Linked DNA regions of Homo sapiens. The protein of the gene in region 1 purifies or fractionates together with the protein of each later gene. This does not show direct contact. Each region holds a gene or a part of one and is shown on either strand. Other genes may lie near its edges.

Region 1 (3,820 bases):
CAGGAGCAATTTATTTAATTTCCATGTATTTGTGTGGTTTTGAAGGTTCCTTTTGGAGTTGATTTCCACTTTTATTCCACTGTGGTCTGAGAGAGTGCTTGATATAATTTCAGTTTTCTTAAATTTATTGAGGCTTGTTTTATGGCCTGTCATATAGTCTATTTTGGAGAAAGTTCCACGTGCTTTTGAATAGAATGTGTATTCTGTGGTTGTTAGACTAAATGTTCTGTATATATCTGTTAGGTCCATTTGTTCCAGGGTATAGTTTAAATCCATTGTTTCTTTGTTGACTTTCTGTCTTGATGACCTGTCTAGTCAGTGGAGTATTGAAGTCCTCCACTATTATGGTGTTGCTATCTCATTTCTTAGGTCTATTAGTAATTACAAGTTTGGGAGCTACAGTGTTAGGTGCATATATGTTTAGGATTGTGATGTTCTCCTGTTGGACCAGGCCTTTTACTATTATGTAATGTCCCTCTTTGTCTCTTTTAACCACTGTTGCTTTAAAGTTTGTTTTGTCTGATATAAGAATAGCTATCCTGTTTGCTTTTGGTGTGCATTTGCATGAAATGTGTTTTTCCGCTCACATAAACTTAAAGTTTAGGTGAGTCTCCTAAGAGGGCAGATGGTTGGTAAGTTCTTATCCATTCTGCAGTTCTGTATCTTTTAAGTGGAGCCTTTAGGCCATTTACATTCAATGTTAATATTGAAATGTGAGGTACTGTTGCATTCATCATGCTGTTTGTTGCTTGCGTACTTTGGATTTGTTTTTTGTTTTTGTTTTTTAACTTGTATTTTTGTTTTATAGGTCCTCCTGTGTGATTTATGTTTTAAAGAGATTCTGTTTTGATGTGTTTCCAGGATTTGTTTCAAGATTTAGAGCTCCTTTTAGCAGTTCTTTTAGTGGTGGCTTGGTAATGGCGAATTCTCTCAGCATTTGTCTGAAAATGACTATATGATGCTTAGTTTTGCCAAATACAAAATTTGGCTGATAATTTTTTTGTTTGAGGAGGCTGAAGATAGGGCCCCAATCTCTTCTAGCTTGTAGGGTTTCTGCTGAGAAATCTGCTGTTAATCTGATAGGTTTTCCTTTATAGGTTACCTGGTGCTTCTGTCTCACAGCTCTTAAGATTCTTTCCTTCGTCTTCACTTTGGATAACCTGATGACACTGTGCCTAGGCAGAGATCTTTTTGTGTTGAATTTCCCAGGTGTTCTTTGTGCTTCTTGTGTATGCATGTCTAGGTCTTTAGCAAGGCCAGGGAAGTTTTCCTCAATTATTCCCCTAAATATGTTTTGCAAGCTTTTAGAATTGTCTTCTCCCTCAGGAACACCAATTATTCTTAGGTTTGGTCATCCGAGCTCTGAATTTCTTTCTTCTACTTGTTCAATTCTATTGCTGAGACTTTCCAGAGCATTTCATATTTCTAAAAGTGTGTCCACTTTCTTTGAGCTCTAAATTTCTTTCTTCTCCTTGTTCAATTCTGTTGCTGAGACTTACCAGAGCATTTCACATTTCTAAAAGTGTGTCCAAAGTTTCCTGAATTTTTGGTTTTTTCTTTAAGCTATCTATTTCACTGAATATTTCTCCCTTTACTTCTTGTATCATTTTTCTGATTTCCTTGCATTGGGCTTCGCCTTTCTCTGGTCCCTCTCTGATTAGCATAATAACTAACCTCCTGAATTCTTTTTCAGGTAAATCAGGGATTTCTTTTTGGTTTAGATCCATTGCTGGTGAAGTAGTGTGATTTTTGGGGGGGTGTTGACGAGCCTTGTTTTATTATATTACCACAGTTGGTTTTCTGGTTCCTTCTTATTTGGGTAGGCTCTGTCAGAGGGATTGTCTAGGGCTGAAGAGTGTTGTTCAGATTTTTTTGTCCCACAGGGTGTTCCCTATGTATTACGCTTCCCCCTTTTCCTGTGGATGTTGCTTCCTGTGAGCCTAACTGCAGTGATTATTGTCTGTCTTCTGGGTCCAGCCACCCAGTGAGTCTACTTGGCTCCGGGCTGGTGCTGGGAGTTGTCTGCACAGAGTGCTTATGTGAACTGTCTGTGGCTCTCTCAGCCGTGGATACCAGTGCCTGTTCTGGTGGAGGTGGTGGAGGATGCAGTGGACTCCGTGGGACTCCTTAGCTTTGATGGTTTAATGCTCTATTTTTGTGCTGGTTGGCCTCCTGCCAGGAGGTGGTGCTTTCCAGAAAGCATCAGCTGTAGTAGTGTGTGGAGAGGGACCAGCCATGGTGAGGGCCCTAGAACTCTCAAGATTATATGTCTTTTGTCTTCCGATACCAGGGTGGATAGAGAAGGACCACCAGGTGGGGGCGGGGCTAGGTGTGTCTGAGGTCAGGCTCTCCTTGGGTGGGTCTTGCTGTGGCTGCTGTGGGGGACGGGGATGAGATTCCCAGGTCACTGGAGTAGTGTACCTAGGAGGATTATGGCTGCCTGTGCTGAGTCATGCAGGTTGTCAGGGAAGTGGGGGAAAGCCAGCAGTCACAGGCCTCACCCAACTCCCCCACAAACCAAAGGGCCAGTCTCACTGTGTCCCCCGACCCCCTCAAACGCCTGCAACATCCCCCGAGTCTGTTTCCAGGTATAGGGCCCAGCTATGAAAGAAGACCTCCCCAGCTGCGAAAGAAAACGGCTTTAGTTCTTCCCCCACCTGTGGAGTCTGCAAGCCCAATTCATGCCCACCCCCCACCCCCCACGCCCAGTTCTGGCAAGGAAGCTTCTCGTCCTGTTCAAGTTGTTACAAAGTTCATCTAGAGAAGTAATTCTCCCTGTGGAGTTTTAACCCCTGCTCCTCTGGCCACCCTCCTGATGGATCCCTGTGGTGCCAGGCAGGGATGGGATCCTTGGGGATCCCACGAGCTCCCAGTGTCTTTCTGCTACTTCCTCTACCCATGTATTTCACTGGGCTCGGCTCTCTAACTTGACTCAGCCCCAGGTAAAGTCGGGAGCTTCTCCCGCAAAGACTTTCAGCTTCTCCAGTGGGGGTGTGTGTTCGGGAGAGGAGGGTCTCCCTTTCCCACTTCCACAGTTGGGTCACTCACAGTATTTGGGGTGTCTCCCAGCTCCTGCAGCAGCAGTCTGCTTTCTTCAGAGGGTCCTCTAAGGATTGCTGGTCTGTTCTTGCAGTTGATCTATAGCTAAAATTCACAATGCAAGCCTCCACATGCTGCTGTGTCTGGAGCTGCAATCTAGTCCTGCCTCCCATCTGCCATGGTCCTCAACTCCTATTTCCTTGCTTTTTTACATATTCTGCACCTTGATATCTGCATATCTGGTATAACGATCACTTCTTCCGATTTTTTGAATTTGCTTTCATATCTATGATGGTGGTTGGGTAGGCACTTTGGCTTTGATTCTGGGTATGTGCAGTAGTGTAATCTCTATAGACTTTTTTTTGGCCGAAAACAGTATCTGTGGTATCTGTAATTTCCTTGGTGGCTTAGGGTGCAGTTGTTCGTGGAGGCTGTGGTAAAGTTTTGTTGTGAACGGGGACACCAAATGGACCAGTCGTTAGGTTGCAGGATGCTAGCAGTAGGCTGAGCATGCCTGTCCTTGGGCCCCAGGGCTGTATACACTGGCATCAGTGGTAGCAGGTCAAGCCAGGCCAATTATTGGGCTTCTAGATGGCTTGCTCAGGTGCTGAGAATGGTGACAGTGGGTTGGGTGGGTGAGTAGGTTTTCAAGCCACTGGGCAGCAAACATGGGCAATGGCAGTAGTAGTAGTGGGACAACCCTCTGGGATCCAAGCAGCCAGTGGTGGTGTTGGCGGTGGCTATAATGGGCTGCGTGGGCCAGTCCCCAGACTTGCAGGTG
Region 2 (3,820 bases), on another chromosome or scaffold:
AGAAACATGTTGATGATAGGGAAAATATGCACACCAAAACTAAAAACATTTTTAGTTCTAGAGAGGATCATTGTAATGAGAAAAAGAATAATTCACTAAAGAAACAAGACTTCTCTGACATGTGTGTATATGTATACATATACATGCATGTATGTATGTAATTGATAAAATTACAAGGAGAAAGTTAATTTATAAATGTTAGTACAATATTTTAATGGGATAAAGAAGTTTTGAATTAGAAGATACAGAATATTTGAATAACACAAATTAAATTAGTCCTTTACCTCATACCATACAAAAATATACATGCCAATTGGGATGAAAACCTGAATGGGAAAAGCAAAAAGCAAAAAAGCTTTTAACTGTTAAACTGTGTATACATAAATAATATATTATCTTTTGTTTTATTACAGTGTATGCTAGCCTCAATTTTGGCAGTAAGACACAGCAAACATTTGGTAGTCAAACAGAGTGTACTTCCTCAAATGGTCAAAATCCAAGTCCAGGAGCTTACATCCTTCCATCCTATCCTGTCTCATCACCTCGAACTAGTCCAAAGCATACATCTCCTCTTATTATATCTCCAAAGAAGTCTCAAGATAATTCTGTTAATTTCTCAAATTCCTGGCCTCTTAAAAGCTTCGAAGGACTATCAAAGCCAAGTCCACAGAAGAAGCTTGTCAGCCAAAAATCGTCTGATCCTACGGGTAGAAATCATGGTAAAAGTCAATACTTTGTTCAAATTTATTTGTGTTTGAATTAGTACTTTGAAGTTAATGCATAGGGCTGTTAGATCTTTAAAAGCTAGTAAACTACATTTTATCTGTCTGAATTTAGTAAATATTTAGGAAAATATTTAATAGTGTGTTAAATAAATCAAATGTATAAAATTCAATTGAAATTCTCATTTCTTACATTGTCACTTAAAAATCCTTTTCAGAACCAGGAAAATAATGATGCTTTTCTTTGTTTGTTTGTTTGTAAATAGAGATAGGGTCCTACTATGTTGACCAGGCTGTTCTCAAACTCCTGGTCTCAAGTGATTTCTCCCATCCTGTCTTCCCAAAGTGCTGGGATTACAGGCTTGAGCCACTGTGCTGGGCCAGAAAATAGTAATGTTTTATAATGAACATGAACAACATATGTTGTTTGAGAGCCTACTAACAAATTTTAGCTTTACAAATATAAAATGTCATTCATATGCTTATTGCAATTAATGCCTAATATTCATTTATTCAATATTTATTGAATTTTTATTGTATGTTAAAATTAATTTGAAACTTTTTTTTTTTGAGACGGAGTTTCGCTCTTGTTGCCCAGACTGGAGTGCAATGGTGCGATCTTGGCTCACGGCATCCTCCACCTCCAAGTGATTCTCCTGCCTCAGCCTCTTGAGTAGCTGGGGTTATAGGCATGCGCCACCATGCCCGGCTAATTTTGTATTTTTAGTAGAGATGGTGTTTCTCCATGTTGGTGAGGCTGGTCTCAAACTCCCGACCTCAGGTGATCAACCCGCCTCAACCTCCAAAGTGCTGGGATTACAGGCGTGAGCTACTGCACCTGGCTGAAACATTTTTTATTATTTGTTATAAACTAAAATATTCTTTTCTTAACAATAACCCACTCCAAAAATCATGAAATTAGCATATATAAGTTCATTCAGGACAAATTCAGTCTTAAAATAAAAAGTCGACTGAGCGTAGTGGGTCATGCCTGTAGCACTTTGGGAGGCCGAGGTGGTTGGATCCCTTGAGGTCAGGAGTTTGAGACCAGCCTGGCCAGTATGGTGAAACACCATCTCTACCAAAAATACAAAAATTAGCCGGGCTGATGGCACGTGCCTGTAATCCCAGCTACTTGGGAGGCTGAGGCGGGAGAATCGCTTGAACCCAGGAAGCGGAGGTTGCAGTGAGCTGAGGTGGCACCACTGCACTCCAGCCTGGGCTACAAGAGTGAGACTCTGTCTCAAAAAATAAATAAATAAATAAAAATAAAAAGATGTTGAAGGAATCCTCTGCGTCCCTCATGATTTTCTTTCCCCAGCCATTGATGTAAGATGTTTCACCTTTAAACTACCCTACAAGTCCAGTGTTCAATTTATGGCATATTCAGTCAATTTTATCACTTTCTCTTAGCACTATACTTTGATTCTCTTCTATTAATTCCTTTCTGTATTTGTTTATTGTACAAGATCAAATATTGTATCGAAAGCCGAGGCTTTATTCAGCTTGTTCTCCCCAGTGACCAGCTATAATGTGCTTTTTTTATTTTAAAACATTGTATTTTAAGCACTTGTGACTATAACTCCCTCTTCTCTAAAATTAGAAAAAGAAAAAGTAAAATATCTATTTTTCATGCAGGAGAAAATTCTCAAGAAAAACCTCCAGTTCAGCTTACACCTGCCTTGGTGAGATCGCCATCTTCCCGACGAGGTCTAAATGGGACAAAGCCTGTTCCTCCCATACCAAGGGGAATAAGCCTTTTGCCTGATAAAGCTGATTTAAGCACAGTGGGACACAAAAAGAAAGAGCCTGATGATATTTGGAAGTGTGAAAAAGATAGTCTTCCAATTGATCTTTCAGAATTAAATTTCAAGGATAAAGATTTGGATCAAGAAGAGGTTAGAACCAAATATTTTTAATGACTTAAAAATATTTGCAATTTTCTATAATATAGTTGCTATTTAAGGAAAAATCAAGTTCTTTTTATCCTATAATATCTTATTTCTAAAAATATGTTCATTATAGAAAATGTGGAAAATACCATGAATTAGTAGGAAGGGAATTTATCACGCCAGTTCCCACTACCAGAATAATTTACTGTTAACACTCTACTGTATTTTCTTCAAGTATTTTTTCTATGCATACATTATTCCTTTTTAAATTAAAAGTATGAATAATAATATAGCAATACACTCATGTACTGACCCTTCCAGTGAACAGTTTGTCATATTTGTTTCCTATATTTAAATAAATGAAACATAGCATAGTTCTCTCCCCAGTTCAACATCTCTTCCTTCTTCACCAGAGGCAATCACTATTACCATTTATATATGTCTTATGTATTTTTGTACTTTTTATATTAATATTATTTTTGTGTATTTACTTACGGTGTGTTTATACCATTGATTTTGGCTTATGATCAGTCTTTTGCAATTGCATACAGTGAACTGCAATGAACATATTTGAACCTGTCCTTTGTGTTTCTGTGCAAGCTTACTTATCTTTATGAAATTGAGATCATATTGTACACTCATCTTTGAATCCTAGATCACTTTGTGCTATAAAAATGTTACCAGTATGATAACTGTACATAATTATTATATCAGACAAGGAATGCGGTTGCTGTATTACTTTGGTTTCAGAGTACTATTTCCATAGATGCCTCCTTTTTATCATTTCAGTTTGCTTCAAGTCAGGTTAAAAAAAAAGTTTTATATTACATATATAAATGCAAATACTTAATTATGATATTTTATGGTCTTAGTCTGTTTTTAAGGTATAAGCATCAATCATGTAATGATAATTTGCTCAATAAAATAGAGTTAATATTACTGTATATTCATTTTTAACATATGTCTTTATGTTAAACACATGTAAAACTAACCTATAAAGTACCAAAGTTGGTTGTTAATGATTTAAAGTAATCACCCCAACTTCTGCTTGTGAAATCTTTCCTTTTTTTTTTTTCCCAACTCATTTGTATTTTACTAGTGCTAGGAAGGGAATTCATTTGAAGGGAAGAAACATATAGAAAAGACATTTTCCTACATAACTTATAAATTTCACCTGATCCTACATAATTTTGCTTTGTTTTTATA

What was found.
Region 2: the proteins of CCDC66 (region 1) and TOGARAM1 purify together in Homo sapiens (co-immunoprecipitation; one large-scale study listed by IntAct). This does not show direct contact.

Annotation. Positions count from the first base shown.
Region 1 is NC_000003.12:56,608,875-56,612,694, forward strand, and holds part of CCDC66 (coiled-coil domain-containing protein 66), read left to right. Parts: intron 1-3,820. UniProt on the Homo sapiens protein: Microtubule-binding protein required for ciliogenesis. May function in ciliogenesis by mediating the transport of proteins like BBS4 to the cilium, but also through the organization of the centriolar satellites.
Region 2 is NC_000014.9:45,003,648-45,007,467, forward strand, and holds part of TOGARAM1 (TOG array regulator of axonemal microtubules protein 1), read left to right. Parts: intron 1-413; coding exon 414-719; intron 720-2,360; coding exon 2,361-2,620; intron 2,621-3,820. UniProt on the Homo sapiens protein: Involved in ciliogenesis. It is required for appropriate acetylation and polyglutamylation of ciliary microtubules, and regulation of cilium length.